2 separate regions of the Homo sapiens genome follow, and region 2 is linked to region 1. Evidence: fine-mapped expression QTL. Tissue or cell type: whole blood. Region 1 holds a variant in brackets; the other region holds the start of a gene. All regions are shown on one strand. Distances are between the middles of the regions.

Region 1 (8,099 bases):
GCTTAGACATCACCTCCCAGGAAGGTTCCTTGACCCACTCAAGCTGGACTAGACACCCCTTCAAGGGCCTTAGCCCGATTACAGCATTTGCATATTGCATAATCATTGTCAGCTTCTCACACCAGACTGTAAGATCAAGGGCAAGATTGATCTGTAGATCCTCAATGTCTAGCACAACAGGTGCTCAACAAAGGCCTAACGACATCATGTGTTTATAATAATGCTAGGAGGCCCCATTGATGAGTGCCAGGTGCTGGGCTGGGCAGCTTCAACATGAGCCCTGACGCACGCCACTGTGTAAGGGAGGCATCGTTATCTCCATTGCAGACAGGCAACAACTGGGACTCAAATACCAGGGAATGTGTCCACGGCCACACAGCAAGAAGCTGCTGGGGTTGAAACCAGAAGCCAGATCAGGTCTCTAGAGTGCTTGATCTGACTCAGTTGGCTGTGATGGAAACGAGTGGGCACCCTGGACAGCTGGGGGCATGGGCAGTGTCAGGGAGCACAGACCTTGAGGCAGCACTGGAACTCCTCCTGGGCATCGCTGAACACCTCAACATCCAGGAAGAGCCGGAGTCGGTGGTCCACAGAGCGGAGGCCACAGCGCTCAGGGGCTGAGGGCAATGAGGGGGCATCAGCCTGCCCATGGCAGCCCCTGGGCTCCATCTCCACCTCCCCATCAGTGCCCCTTCCCTTCCCCAAACTCATCTATGTCTTGTTTTGCCTATACTCACGGGGACTGAGGCTCCAACTACCATGGTCACGGGTGCTCGGTGCCTGAGGTGGGCTGTTCTTGGCCCTGTCAAGGTGGTCACCATGGCCAGGAGGGTGGCAGACAGGGCTGGCAGACGGAGAAGGAGCCAGAGACTGCTCTCCCTGTTTCCGCTCCCTGTTGGGGGTTCCCCGAGACACAGCGAGGAGAACCACGTGGTCACTACCACAGTTAGGACACACAGCAGGAGATTCTGGAGGGAGGATGGACACGGTCCCCATGAGCCCCCCCCACAGTGCCACAACTCCCACCATGCTCACGATGCTCCTTCCCCATGCTCAGGTCTCCCCTGAGCCCAAGCCTCCAGCTTCATACACAACCACCGCGCCCCAGGCCACCAGCTCCCTCTCCCGGCACAGCTGCCAACTGATCACTCCCCACCCCAGGGAGGGATGAGCTAACCCTGGCCCACAAACTCCTCAAAGTGCACTCTACCTTCTAACTCTAGGCCCTCTCAGACTGGGCCAAACACAACCAGGACCTGCTCTTATGCCCTCTTACAGACTTGGGCTGATCAAGTACTTCAGGGCTCTCCTAGCAACGTCTGAAAGACCAAAATCAACAGGTCTGGAAAGGCAGAGAACTCTGTTGCCAAATTTCGGTCCAATTCCAGGCTCCATCAATTAATGGCTCTGTAATCATGGGCAAGTCATCTAAGCTCTGTGAGCCTGGTTCCTCGTCTATAAAACAGGGATGACAATAGCATCTATCTTATACTCATCCTTAGTGTCAGGAAGCTGGGAAGGAATCAGGACATGGATCAGCAATGAGAGAGGCAGCACTCTGAGCAGCTACACCGTGATGGGCATGCGCTACCTCCTATGCCACTATGATCGCATTTCATCACCAGAGAAACTCTCCCTATCCCATTTTGCAAAGAAGAAAGAAAATATTAAATCATTTACACATGCTGCCCAGGACCATACAGCTGGGGACAACGGCAGCAGCTACCATTTACAGGAGACCTTTGTGTTGTGCCAGGCCCTCTGCTTGGTGCCTTACTGTCACATTTAAATAGCGTAACAGCACCATGGGGTGAGTTCATTCCCTTCTTTGTTCAGAGGAGGTAACTGAGGTGCAAGTGAAAGGAGAATGGTTGGCCGGGCGTGGTGGCTCACGCCTGTAATCCCAGCACTTTGGGAGGCCAAGGTGGGCAGATCCGAGGTCAGGAGACAGACCATCCTGGCTAACACGGTGAAACCCCATCTCTACTAAAAATACAAAAAATTAGCTGGGTGTGGTGGTGGGCGCCTGTAGTCCCAGCTACTTGCGAGGCTGAGGCAGGAGAATGGCGTGAACCCGGAAGGCAGAGCTTGCAGTGAGCCAAGGTTGTGCCACTGCACTCCAGCCTGGGCAACAGAGCGAGACTCCGTCTCAAAAAAAAAAGAAAAAAAAAAATTAAAGGAGAACAGAGCCCACAGTAATGTTCATTAATAACGCCACCATGGAAGAGGCTCCAGAGACCACAGCACCTCATGGTGTACAGCCAGGGTCCGGGAGGGGCTGGGGGCTGTTTCTGTTTGCGCTGTGTCACTAAGGCTGCATGCCCAGGCCAGTTCACAGTGGGGAATGGAGCAGGGCTCCATTTTCTGAATAAAATCTAAACCCCTGCTCCAGCTGCCGCCAAGAAGAGAAAACCGTCTAATAAAATTCTGGCATTTCCACAGAGCTGTTATCAAGAATATTTATTTCTTCTTCAATGTCTTCTTCAAAGATAGTGCTGACTGGTCTACAATGGAAACAATTCTTGTTTTAAGGACTAGCGCATGAAGAAATGCCACAGGACATTATGTACCTTCCAAGGTCAGCCGGGAAGGATAAACCAAGCCAACTCCCCAAGCATCTCACTCAACAGCTACACTTGCTGGCAGAGGCAGCACCACAATCCAATACTGCAGTGAGGGCTCATTAGGTTTTATGTAGTGTCTGAAATATCAGCCAAAAAATCCCCAACACAACAAGCCTTCAAGTTATGAAAAAATAATGAGTATGTTTAAGCACAGTTACAGAGATTGCATTTCCTGACTTTTAGAGTTAAAAAAAAAAAAAAAACAGGATATAGTTTCTTCTTTTTTTCTGTTTTCCTTTTTGTAAATGCAGCAGGCAGACGGTTTTCTTTTTCCTCCAGGCAGAACAACTGCTCTCCACTCTAGCCCCTTCTCCCTAGGGCTCCCCCTTCACACTCCCCTACACAGAGCCACTTTCCCTGGAACAGGGGAGGCGTGTGGGCAGAGAGGTCAAGGGCAGGACTTGTACCTGTCTTTTGGAACAGAGGCCTCCAGCCTTCCTCACTGTCTAATCCCATCCTGGGCTCCTCTGGCTTGAACTCATGGCCACAGCGTAGACACTGGAATCTACCCAGCAGGAGGTCCCTGGCCTCCCCAAGCTGTTCCCGAGCCACATTGGTGACTGGGGTCAACACGGCAAGCAGCTCCTGACAGAGGGTGGATCAGAGGCAGCTGTGAGCAGGCGGACCCCAGACGGACACCTCCCACAGGCCCCCGGCCCTCAGGCCTGCTGCCACTTCCCTCTGGCTCTCTTAATCCCCACAGCCTCCTGGGCCCCCACTCTGGGCGCCATCACCTGGACAGCTGCGTGGGCATCAGGCTCCAGCACCAAATAGCGACGCAACTGCCGGTCAGGGCAGATGTAGGAGAAGCGCAGACTGAGGATGGGGGCTCCAGGGAGCAGATCTGAGCCCTGCGCAGCAAGAGGGGGACCGGGTGAAAAACAGCAGGGGCGGTGATCAGAGGGATGAGGGGATGCTGAGAGCATGGAGGATGGCAGGACCTCTGAAGCCTGTCAAAGGCCTGTACTGACGTCCAAGCTCCAGCACAGAATCCCTGCTCCTCAGCCCAGCTTCCCGAGTGCTTGCAACCTCTGAGGCTCCCCTCCTCGGCTCCTAGTGCCAAGGAGAGACTGAAAGAAATGCCCAGCCCAGTGCAGGGCACACAACAGCCATGTTCCCATAACTGGCTCCTCCAGAGACCCTGCCACGCCCCACTCACCGTGGGCCTGGGCGACCTCTGGGCCTGGGCCTCCGGCTCTATCTCAGCTGCCTCCAGACTCTGGAGCTCCAGTCGCTCCAAGGTGCGAGCTGCTTGGAGTTCCACCTCAAACAGGTGGGCAGAAGTGACCCTGAGAAAGCATTCCCTGCCCCGTACGCCCTCAGGCCCCTCCAGGGGACACACCAACAAGGGGCGACAGAGTTCCGCTGTGGAGAGACCAAGAGAAAAGGCCTGCAGGGAGGGAAAGTACCCACACTCTGCCCTCCCCCGAACTGGCCCTCCACCCGCCAGGCCCCACCACTCACAAACATCCCAAGGGCCCCTGGCCTCAGCTCGCCCCAGCCCACAAAGGGCTCACCTTCCACTTCCTTCTGGTCCTGCTCCTCTTCTTCCTCCTCTCCTGCCTCCTCTTCTCCCTGTTCCACCATCTCCCCCTCCTCCTTCTCCTCCTTCCCCTCCTTCTCCTCTTCCTCCTCCTGTGGCTCCGCCCTGACCTCCTCTGACATTTTCTGTGGTGACTCCTGGGGGCCTCTGGCTTCCTCCTGCGGGGGTGAAGGTCTGGGTGCAGTGTCGGGGCCCTGGGAGCTGGCTGGAGGTGCACTGGGTGCAGAAGTAGTGGGGGTGGCCGGCAGAGGGTTTCCGGAGGGCTCCAGGTGACTCCTGTACTGCAGCCAGTTGCGGCCGAACCGTTCCCGGAAGCTGCTCATGAGCTCCAGCTCCGGGTGCTGCTGCACGAACCATCCTAGGCAGGAGGGGAACCCAGAACTGAGCAAGCCTGCCCCACACAGATGGCCCCAAATCCTTCAACGGTGCTCCTCAGCGATGAGGGGGC[G/A]ATGGGCTGTGTATGGGGACACGGGCAAGGGAGGCTACAGGCGTCCCCTCCGCGGCATGTACTAAAGCGTGTCCTATGGAACCCTGTGGTCACATGCAATCCAAGCTGCGCATCCTATGCTACTTCCAGAGACTCAGCATACATGATAGCATCCTGAAGGGCCCGAGACGGCCGGCAGCTGACACACCTATTTCTCTTCAACCTCACATTTCTCAAACTTCTCTGGCCACAATCCTATTATTTTATATATATACATATACACTTTCTTTTGTTTTGGGGTTTTTTACTTTTTTTTTTAAGAGATAAGGTCTTACTCTGTCACCAGGTTAGAGTGCAGTGGCATGATCATAGCTCACTGCAACCTTGAACTATCAGGCTCTGGCGATCCTCCTGCCTCAGCCTCCCAAGTAGCTAGGACTACAGGCGCACACCACCACGTCAGGCTAATTTAAAAATTTTTTTGTAGAAATGGACATCTCTCTATGTTGCCCAGGCTGGTCTCAAACTCCTGGGCTCAGGCAATCCTCCCACCTCAGCCTCCCAAAGTGCTGGGATTACAGATGTAAGCCACTGCACCTGGCCTACATGATCTCTTGACACCCCACAAAATTAATGTTCCTCGAAAAGTTTTCAAAATGCTCCCAGAAGCAGTCTTCTCCTTTCCCTAAACTAAAAGAAAAGAAAAAAGACTAAGAAGCCCTCTATAATACTCTACCCCAACAAAAAATAACATTTCTTCCAGCAGATCTTCACTGTAACTTAAAAATTAGAGTGAGCTCGCTGGGGACGAGAGAGGTTAGTGGGATGAAGCTGACTTACCAGCCGGAGAGGGGTTCAGAGTTCGGGGCTCCGGGTCCGTATCACTGGGTTCAGAGATGCTTGCCCGCCTCACACGGACTCGGCTCTGAGGTTGGTGGAGGGAAGAAGTTCTGTGAAAGCCAAGCCTCCAGCCCTGCCATCCACGGCTGGCCATCCAACCTATCAAAGAAACCTTGACCACGTGCAAGCACAGTTCCTACCATTCCCTGCCCACTGTAGCCCAGAGTCCCCGGAGAGACACCCAACCGCAGGCACAAGGCAGCGGAGGACGCTGCTTACCTTAACCTTATGAAGCAGGGGCTGGGTCACAACACCCCCTGAGGAGAGGCTGTCACTCAGGTCAGGGCCACCTGAGGTTTCAGGAGTACTCCCCACTGGCCAGGGCAAAGGTGGGCCCATGGGGCTGAGCCCCAAGGATGTGTGAGTCTGGCACGTGACGACAGGAAGGAGAGAGAGGTTGGAGCCTGGGAGCACCTCTGCCTTGCCCAAGCCAGCCAAAAGGCGGGACCCTACTTTCCACTGACCAGGAAGACCCTGTCACCAGCCAGCCCTCTGTTCTCTCCCCAGCGCCCTCCCTTCGTGTCTTCCCCCAACAGTCCTCGCCCCCCAACCACACCGACCTGAAAATCTGTCAGTGACAAGACCTTGCCATCGAGAAGGAACTGAGCAAAGACAAAAAGGGGGAGGGAGTATGTGGTAGGCCCATCCTGCTGAGCTCCAGGTATTAAGAACACAGTAAGCAGGGTCCAGGTCCTTGGCCCCTCACCCAGGGATGGCAAGAGGGTGCAAGGTGGGGGAGGACTGGGCAGGAAAGGGGAAGAAGAGTGGACACAGGACGATCACTCACGCCAGTAGCAGCATCCCTGGCCCGGGGTGACAAGTACTGGGCAGTGGCTGCTCGGTGCTCAGGGTGGAACCAAAGAGGGTTCCCCTCCAGGTAGAGCTGAGGGGCAGGAAGGGGAGAATGAGGAGGGCCTGGGGCCCTGGCCCTCCCTGTGTGAAGAAGGCACTGACCAAACCAGCATGGGGGGGTACGTGCAAGGGTGGTTCCCAGGCCCCTGATGCATTCCCATCTCACCTTGCGGAGCTCAGCCAGCAGCCACAGTGGTGACAGCTCCCGGTGTCCTTCCAGCAGGTTGTATGCCAAATCCAGGTGCCGCAGATTCCTCAGCTGCTCTAGGCCTGGGGTGGACGCAAGAAGGAAGGAAGAGCATGTGGATGAGTACACGCAAGTGAGTGTGGTGCATGCACTGGGGGAGGTTGCAGCAGAAAGACCGGCCAGAGCACCCCTGCACTCCCCATAAGCCCTCTCAAGGCTCTAGAGGCACATGGTCCCCAGGCCAGCCCCAGCCTCACTCTCCCCCTTCCCCTCCATGCTTGCCCCATCACACACCCCCACTCACCATGCAGGCTCCGAAGCTCATTGCCTCGCAGTATCAGGACCCCCAGAGCAGCCCCTGAGGGTCCCATTCTTGGCACCAAATGCAGGCGATTATAGGAGATGTCCAGATGGTGGAGCTCACACAAATCCTGGCAGGGGTACAGGGGAGAAAAAGATTATCTCGTTGACCAAACTCTAGCCAGGGTCCTCTGAGACCTCTTCTGGACTAGGCCTCAACCTTGGCCTATATAAAACTGCACACACTCAGCACAAATGATTTCATCCACCCCTACTCCCACGTTAAAAGACTTGAACAACACCAGCACTGTTCCTAACAGTTCAAGGCCACACCCTGAGCATGGCAACTCCAAGCCCCTTAAATTCCTGCCTGGGAAAAGTCAAAGCTGCCAAAAGAATTTCCCATTTGTTTCAGCCAACTCCTGAAGATAGGGCCCCGTCTCCCAGTCTCTGTGAAAGGGTAAGGGCCTTATTTTGGTAAGTGCCAGTTAGTTAGCAAACTCAGATGGGTTTCATGTGGACCAACCTGATTTCCACTCCCCCAGCTCTGCTCAAGGCCCTACCATTCCCCTGCCCACTCCCCGCCGCCCTCTTTTAAAATGCCCAGCCGGCCAGGTGCAGTGGCTCATGCCTGTAATCCCAGCACTCTGGGAGGCCAAAGAGGGGGGATCACTTGAGGCCAGGAGTTCGAGACTCACCTGGCCAACATTGTGAAACCCCGTCTCTACTAAAAATACAAAAATTAGCTGGGCGTGGTGGCACACACTTGTAATCCCAGCTACTTGGGAGGCTGAGGCAGGAGAATCGCTTGAACCCGGGAGGCAGAGGTTACGGTGAGCCAAGATCGTGCCATTGCACTCCAGCCTGGGCAACAAGAGCGAAACTCTGTCTCATTAAAAAAAAAAAAAGGAAAAAAGTCCACTGACACTTCTGTATCTTCCAGGCTCTGTTCAGGGAAATAACCGTGACTGCAACACTGTCTATGCTATCACCACAAACATTCAAACTACAAACGAAGAAATCCATCGGTTGCCACTGCTATCCTCATTCCACCATCTAAAGAAACATAGAGCTCAACACCTAGAAATCTCAACTGGCTGCCCTCTGGACTCAGAAAATGGATTTATAGTCTGCTCCAACCATTCATCTTTGTTTCCCTTTTTGTTTCCATAGAAATGTCCCCCATTAAATGCCTGGTCACTCTCACCATCCAGCAAAATTCATCCACTACCAAGTCCCAATAAATGGCTCAGTTGGTTTTTAGTG
Region 2 (8,090 bases), 37 kb after region 1:
CACCGTTCCCAGCCCAGCTCCTGGAAGGAGATGTTCAGTGCTACTCTGTGGCAGTTGGCATGGGCAGCCGGTTCCTCCGGAGGCCTCTGCAGCAGGCGCAGAGCAGAGGGAGACCAAGGCCAGGACATCAGGGGAGTTGAGCGTCGGGCTCTCTCCCCTCCACTGGGTGGTCTGGTCCGAGTGTGGGCCACCAGGAAGGGCGTGGCCTCAGGCCGGGCTGAGCAGGTACAGAGGGGACAGCGCAGCAGCAGCACCAGGACGGGGTGGGTCAGCAGAGAGAGAGCAGAGGTGGCCAGGTGCAGCACGGCCCAGTGAGGGGGAGCATGGCCCAAAGACATGGGCACAGCCACGGGTCCTCCCGGTGACAGTGCCAGCAGGCCTAGCAGGGGCTCAGAGCTATTGGAGGCTGCTGTGCCCTGCCTGTCCAGCCCGGTGTGGAACCACAGCTGGGCTGAAGTCACCTGGCGGCTGCGTGTATGCTGGGATGGCCGGAACATGTATCTGAAGAGGCCCTCCTCAGCCTCCTGGGCCAGCCCTCTGGCAGCTGACTTGTCCTCACAGCTGGCATCTGCAGGAGACAGAAGAAAAGGGAGAGGGCAGCCCTGACTGGCAGGACCTGGCACCCCTCCTCTTCAGCAGGAGGGATGTGGCCACCAGTCATGAGCCAATGATGGGCTGCACTCTGCTCCACGCCCTCCGGGACGTGGGGACTCTCCTGAGTTTTGGGAGAGCTTCTGTAGGCTTCCCATTTTTTAATTTCATCATGAAGGGACTTAAAAAAATAGAAGACATTGCCAACTTCTCTCTGAAGTGGTTTTACCAATTAACATGCCCATCAGCAGTGTGTAAGAGGCCCTCTCTCCACTTCACCAGCACTAAGACTTTGTATTAGACTTCAATGCTTACTCACCAGATAGTGTGAAACAGTATCCTGAATGGTGTCTACATGGATGGTTGTTATATTCTTTTTTTTTTTTTTTTTTGAGACAGAGTCTTACTGTGTCACCCAGGCTGGAGTGCAGTGGCATGATCACGGCTCACTGCAGCGTCTACCTCCTGGGCTCAAGCAATCCTCCCACCTCAGCCTCCTGAGTAACTGAGACCACAGGCGTGTGCTACCACACCTAGCTAACTTTTGTGGGTTTTGTAGAGACAGGGTCTCGCTATGTTGCCCAGGCTGATCTCAAACTCCTGAGCTCAAGCAATCTGCCTGCCTTCACCTTCCAAAGTGCTGGGATTATAGGCGTGAGCCATCACACCCAGCCATATTACCATTTTTTTTTTTTTTTTGAGATGGAGTCTAGCTCTGTCGCCCAGGCTGGAGTGCAGTGGCGCCATCTCGGCTCACTGCAACCTCTGCCTTCCGCTCCGCCTCCCACGTTCAAGCAATTCTCCTGCCTCAGCTTCCCGAGTAGCTGGTGCCACCATGCCTGGCTAATTTTTTGTATTTTTAGTAGAGACGGGGTTCACCATGTTAGCCAGGATAGTCTCGATCTCTTGACCTTGTGATCCTCCTGCCTTGGCCTCCCAAAGTGCTGGGAGTACAGACGTGAGCCACCGCGCCCGGCCTATATTACTCTTTATATCTTTGGCATGTCAGGAATATTGTAGGATAAATTCTTTAAAATAATTCCATTTTTAAAAGACAGGTTTACACCAAAAAAAAAAAAAAAAGAAGAAGGAGGGAAAGGCAAGTGGGAAAGGGAAGAAAATGGAGAACAAGGAAGAGGGGGAAGAGAAGGAGGAGGGCTGTAACTCAGAACAGAGGGCAGTCCTTTCAAGAATGTGTAGTTAGCATCCTCACACTGACACACTCATAGACTATACTAATCATCCTGGAGCAGCACTCGTTCATGGACTGGCAATTGGAACTATACTGTTACATGGCTTCTCTCATTATCTAGTCACAATTGGTCCATTTTGCAGATAAGGAAACTGAGGCTTAGAGAGGTGAAATGACGTTCAACGACTAAGTGGCCAGGCTTGGATTTTGCCTGATCCCAAAGCCATCCTTCTCCCCACTGTGCTGCGAACGGACTGAAGTGAGGGAGGCAGGGGTCCTCTCTAAGAGAAAGGTGGACCAGATGACAAGAAAGCCCACCCACAGGAGGGCTTATCCATTCAGTCAGTGGAACAAGGGGGCACATATATGTTGAGACAGGAACTCAAGAGAAGATAGACTAGTTTTCCAGAAAAGTTTCCCAACTAATCTTTTGCCTGTATCTCTGATAGCTTCTCAGTGTCAGCTACCTGGGAGTAAAGAAACAGGGTTTGGAGCAGCGAGCAGAGGCAGAGATAGGAGGAAAGGTGGCAGGAAGGGGCTCAAGCCCAAATATCTCCATCTTTAGAGACCCCCGGTCTCCCAGCGCATACTTCCCAAATGCCTCCCACCTGCCATGCACTCTAGGTACAGCCTCTCACTTAATCCTGAGAGGTGGGCATTAGCCCATTTTACAGATGGGGAGACAGAAGCATAAGGAAGTTTAGTAACTGGCCTATTGCTGCAAAGCAACTGAGTAGCAGGACTAGGATTCAAACCCAGGTCCGCCTGGCCTGCAAACCCATGCTGTGCCTTGCTTTTTCTCAAAGTCATCCTGCCGGTTCCCCCACCCTCGTTACCTGTGGCTGGGAAAAGGATGGCTTGGGAGACATCCTCCTCTTCCTCGGGCTCAGAGCCCCTGTGTGTGAAGCCCCCCAGGGCATGTCTTCGGGGCAGCCGCCTGACTCCAGGGTCCCCACCTTCCCTGGTCACCGCGGGGGGCCCCAAGGCATCCAAGAACAGGGCCCTCACCTTGGCCAGAACAAGTTCCCGGGCCAGCTCCAGCCCCTGGCAGCTGTGCCCACCCTGTGGGGTCAGCAGCAAGAAGAGCAGTAGGTGCAGCACCATAGCTCACCTGGCCCTGCTAGTGGGGAACTCACACCCTGCCCCGTGCCCCTTCTGCCAGGGTCTGCCCAGGGCCTTTCCACTCTCCCCTCCCCATCCCACACCCACCCTCTTCTACCCTTCTCATCCAGTCTTCCCCAGTCCTTTCCACGCCCCACAGTCCGAGTTGCCCCTGCCCGTGGCATTGAGACCTCCTATCTCTGACGCAGATGTCTGTGGCCATGAGCCTTATCTCCCACTCCCGCCAGGGATGTGGGGGAGGGGCTGGGAAGGATTTCGCCTCAAGCGACCTGACTCACACATGCAAACATACAACACCTTCTCCCTACACACACACACACTCACACACACACTCACACACACACTCACACACACACAAATTCTCACACACACACACTCTCTCACACACACACACACAGACACATCCAGAGGTGACATCAGGTGGGACAGGAGCCTGGGAGCTGTAGCCGGCCAGCCCCAGAAAGTGTTATTTGTCAGGGAGACAAAGTGCATCACCCCTCAGACCTTCTGGGGCCCCTTTCAATAAGCAGCTGCTGGCCGGCCAGCCCTTGGGGGCAGGGCTGGAACCGGGGCTAGAACCGGGGCTAGGGCCGGGGGCAGGTGGTCCTGCCTGCTCTATACTTAGACCAGTGGAGCCAGTCTGGGCTCTTGTCCTCCAGCTGTGTCATCAGAGAATATTTTTGGGATTGGCAGCTGCAGGCGCCTCTGCCACTCAGGCCCAAGCCTGGCGGGCGGCTGGGGACCTGGCGGCTGGAGGTGGGAGGGAGGAGGGGGAAGAGGCCCAAGCTGTGGGAGGGGGCTGGGAAGAGAGGCTCCTAAGAGCAGGAAGCCAGGCAGCGGGCAGGGGAGGCTGCGGGGCCACTCGCTGGAGAGGCAAACAGGAAGGACTGCCCCCTGAGCGCCAGGCTTCGGGCCCGGGAATCGCCGCCGCCGCCGCCGCAGAGCTGCAGCTCGGGGCCGAGGGTAAGGAGGCGAGCCGGGAGCGGGAGGCCCGGGAGAGCTCCGCGGGTCCCCGCGCCCAGTCCCCAGCCGCGCCCCGACCCCGCCGCCCCGGGCCTCGGCTCGCCCTCCGCACCCCCCCCTGCCCCCCCACCGTTCGCCGCTGCAGGCGGTCGGCCGCCGCGATGAAGGCGAGCTCGGGGGATCAGGGGAGCCCCCCGTGCTTCCTGCGCTTCCCGCGGCCTGTGCGGGTGGTAAGTGGCGCCGAGGCCGAGCTCAAGTGCGTGGTCCTGGGGGAGCCGCCGCCTGTAGTGGTGTGGGAGAAGGGCGGGCAGCAGCTGGCGGCCTCGGAACGCCTGAGCTTCCCGGCGGACGGCGCGGAGCACGGCCTGCTGCTGACCGCCGCACTGCCCACCGACGCGGGGGTCTACGTGTGCCGCGCCCGCAACGCGGCCGGCGAGGCCTACGCGGCGGCCGCCGTCACCGTGCTGGAGCCGCCGGCCTCCGACCCCGAGCTGCAGCCCGCCGAGCGCCCGCTGCCATCGCCGGGGTCCGGGGAGGGCGCCCCGGTCTTCCTCACGGGGCCTCGATCCCAGTGGGTGCTGCGGGGGGCGGAGGTGGTGCTGACGTGCCGGGCGGGGGGCCTCCCCGAGCCCACACTGTACTGGGAGAAGGACGGGATGGCCCTGGACGAAGTGTGGGACAGCAGCCACTTCGCGCTCCAGCCGGGCCGCGCCGAGGACGGCCCCGGCGCGAGCCTGGCACTGCGCATCCTGGCGGCTCGGCTGCCGGATTCCGGCGTCTACGTGTGCCACGCCCGCAACGCGCACGGCCACGCGCAGGCGGGGGCGCTGCTCCAGGTGCACCAGCCCCCCGAGAGCCCGCCCGCGGACCCCGACGAGGCCCCCGCGCCGGTGGTGGAGCCGCTCAAGTGCGCGCCTAAGACCTTCTGGGTGAACGAGGGCAAGCACGCCAAGTTCCGCTGCTACGTGATGGGCAAGCCCGAGCCCGAGATCGAATGGCACTGGGAGGGCCGCCCGCTGCTCCCGGACCGCCGCCGCCTCATGTACCGCGACCGCGACGGCGGCTTCGTGCTCAAGGTGCTTTACTGCCAGGCCAAGGATCGTGGGCTCTACGTCTGCGCCGCGCGCAACTCGGCGGGCCAGACGCTCAGTGCCGTGCAGCTGCACGTGAAAGGTACGGCGGAGCCCGGGACCTAGGGAGGGGCCTCGAGTGTCCTCCGAGGCCCTCCGAACTCCAGCCCTCCTCGGTGCCCAGCGCTGCCCCCAAGACTGGAGGAGAGGTGGTCCGCGGGAATATTAAAATACCAAACCCGCCCGCCTCTCACTCCCCAGGGATTCGGATTTAGTAGGTCTCCAGGGTACTCAGGAACTTCTTAGCAAACTCCTTAAATGATTCCGAGGCAGATGGTGGAACACCACTAAGGAGTGATTGATGTACAAATCCGGAGGGCCCTAGAACTCTTCTTCCCTAGTGGTTTTCAACGTCTTTGTTATTTTACTCCTCCTTCCCCCACTGAATTCACAACCAGAGCCCCAATATATGAGACAGATAAAGGAGTAGTTTATGGGCGTAAATTGCTGAGTCTACGTATATAACAGGTACTTCTAAACCATCAGTGAGAATAAGGAGGCTATTTTATTGAATACAGGAATTTGAATTAAAGGCTGCATTCATGAGACCAGGCTCTGAACCCTGTGGGGACGGCCTGGCTGCATCTGTCACCTTGAGAAACAAGTGATTCAGTGGAAAGCTAGACTTGAGGGAGGACAAATGTCCTGCGTGTTTTTACTATTCTTTGATTAAACTGCTCCCCACGTTTGCAAGAAGAGGAAGGTGAAGGAGAGAAGGTTTATATTTCAAAGTTGAATCACCAACAATATCCAATAAATGGTTACATTCTCATAAACAGAAAATTCCAAAGGAAAAAAAAGCACACCCCAAACTCACCAGAAGGTAACGCTCCCCATAATAGGATTTCATCACAACGCAAAAGAGTACACCTTCACTAGTTATTGTCCAGTTTTTTCTCTTAGAGGAAAAAAAGTTGGTAAATTCTCCTGAGTCCTTCCTAGCATGCAGTCAAGCATGTTGCCCCCAGGCTGCGGTGGTGGCCTCACTGTTACAGTTCAATGCTCACAGATTCATCAGGTTGGTGCTGATCTGGACCTCCATCAGGAAAGAAAAGCCCGGAGGGAAGGCTAGAGGAGCTTCCCCGAGTTGCATACACACACGCACACAAAAACTTGCTTCTCCAGCAGCCCTAGTTAATCCTCTGATTTCCAACATCCTGTTTTCTTTTCTTTTCTTTTTTTTTTTTTGAAATACACTTTTGAAAAGGGTTAAAATAGCTAGGCACAGTGGCTCACCCTGTAATCCCAGCACTTTGGGAGACTAAGGTGGGCGGATCATTTGAGGTCAGGAGTTCGAGAACAGCCTGGCCAACATGGCAAAACCCCATCTCTACTAAAAATACAAAATCATTAGCCAGGCGTGGTGGCGCCTGCCTGTAATCCCAGCTCTACTTGAGAGGCTGAGGCACCAGAATTGCTTGAACCCAGGAGGTGGAGGTTGCAGTGAGCCGAGATTGCGCGACTGCACTCCAGCCTGGGCAACAGAGCGAGACTCCATCTCAAAAAAAAAAAGAGTTAAAATATTTTAAATTCTACTCAGACCCTTGCAGAATATGTGAAATGACTGGGGCGGGGGGAGCCAGGGAACAGTTTGGAAATCACCAATCTAGGGCCTGGAGGACCCCAGGGAACAGTTTGGAAATCATCAATCTGGTCCAACCCCTTCTCTCCCTTTCCCCATTTTACAAGTAAGGAGACTGAGGCCCAGAAGCATTGAAATGGACTTGCTTAAGGTGATGTGGCTAGTGTCAGGGCTGGATGAGAACTCAGGTCATCTTAGGAACCACCACTTCCCTTCTGGTAGTTTTCTGTGATTCCACAGTGCCCGCTGGCTCTGCATGAAGAGCACACAGCATGAGCTAATGCGCTTCTAGGTATCCTACTCCTAGTCTGGGCCTTCTCCAGAGCCCTCTCTTGTCTCTCTCTCCCCTCTCCACAGAGCCCCGCCTCCGGTTCACACGGCCCCTGCAGGACGTGGAGGGCCGTGAGCACGGGATTGCCGTGCTGGAATGTAAAGTACCCAACTCCCGCATCCCCACGGCCTGGTTCCGTGAGGACCAGCGGCTGCTGCCCTGCCGCAAGTACGAGCAGATCGAAGAGGGCACTGTCCGGCGCCTCATCATCCACAGGCTGAAGGCAGACGATGATGGTATCTACCTGTGCGAGATGCGGGGCCGGGTGCGCACCGTGGCCAACGTCACAGTCAAAGGTCAGCTGGCCCGTGGGGAAGAGGCTGAGGCGGAGGCAGGCAGGTGCTCAGATTCCAGGTTGATGGATTCCTGTCCGCATCTCAGGGCCCATCCTGAAGCGCCTGCCCCGGAAGCTCGACGTCCTGGAAGGAGAGAATGCTGTGCTGCTAGTGGAAACTCTAGAGGCCGGGGTCGAGGGACGCTGGAGCCGTGATGGGGAGGAGCTGCCGGTCATCTGCCAGAGCAGCTCAGGCCACATGCATGCCCTGGTCCTTCCAGGGGTCACCCGAGAGGATGCTGGCGAGGTCACCTTTAGCCTGGGCAACTCCCGTACCACTACGCTTCTCAGAGTAAAATGTGAGGGCAGGAAGGCCTCTGGACAGGCGAGGCAGGGCAGGAGGTTGGCCAGATGCCGGAGCTGGGTTGGTGAAGTAGATTTAAGGTGGAAGGGCTGTGGAGGCCCAAGCAAGGCCGGAACACATCCCTGCCTTGGTCTCAGGTGTCAAGCACAGTCCCCCAGGACCCCCCATATTGGCAGAGATGTTCAAGGGCCACAAGAACACGGTCCTGTTGACCTGGAAGCCTCCCGAGCCAGCTCCCGAGACCCCATTCATCTACCGGCTGGAGCGGCAGGAAGTGGGCTCTGAAGACTGGATTCAGTGCTTCAGCATCGAGAAAGCCGGAGCCGTGGAGGTGCCGGGCGACTGTGTGCCCTCCGAGGGTGACTACCGCTTCCGCATCTGCACAGTCAGCGGACATGGCCGTAGTCCCCACGTGGTGTTCCACGGTTCTGCTCACCTTGGTGAGTTGGTCCTGCCAGACCCACCCATCACTTCTCCTCCCTTCCCCAGCCCTCAGTGCTGGTCCTCTCACAGGCTTGCCATCCGCCAGCCTCTGCCCTCT

What was found. PIP is the estimated chance that this variant, and not a neighbour inherited with it, causes the effect.
Region 2: it holds the start of OBSL1, and the variant in region 1 is fine-mapped to the expression of OBSL1 in whole blood (TOPMed, PIP above 0.99).

The regions. Positions count from the first base shown.
Region 1 is chr2:219,604,473-219,612,571 of GRCh38, reverse strand. It overlaps STK11IP (serine/threonine kinase 11 interacting protein), which reads right to left. Exons shown (of 25, transcript NM_052902.4): 8 at 6,838-6,964; 9 at 6,513-6,616; 10 at 6,282-6,377; 11 at 6,055-6,096; 12 at 5,714-5,860; 13 at 5,435-5,519; 14 at 4,142-4,525; 15 at 3,784-3,989; 16 at 3,359-3,475; 17 at 3,032-3,209; 18 at 738-968; 19 at 514-617. Among named protein-coding and RNA genes, the nearest start is that of STK11IP, 11 kb to the right of the region's middle. RefSeq lists enhancers at 3,806-4,305, 6,311-7,510. The variant G/A (reference allele first, on the strand shown) is at 4,616.
Region 2 is chr2:219,567,172-219,575,261 of GRCh38, reverse strand. It overlaps OBSL1 (obscurin like cytoskeletal adaptor 1), which reads left to right and starts at 3,723. Exons shown (of 21, transcript NM_015311.3): 1 at 3,723-5,041; 2 at 6,938-7,207; 3 at 7,293-7,544; 4 at 7,687-7,989. The coding sequence starts at 4,030. INHA (inhibin subunit alpha) reads right to left here and starts at 2,952. Exons shown (of 2, transcript NM_002191.4): 1 at 2,620-2,952; 2 at 1-568. The coding sequence starts at 2,887. RefSeq lists enhancers at 2,961-3,255, 3,942-4,779, 4,780-5,617, 7,740-8,090.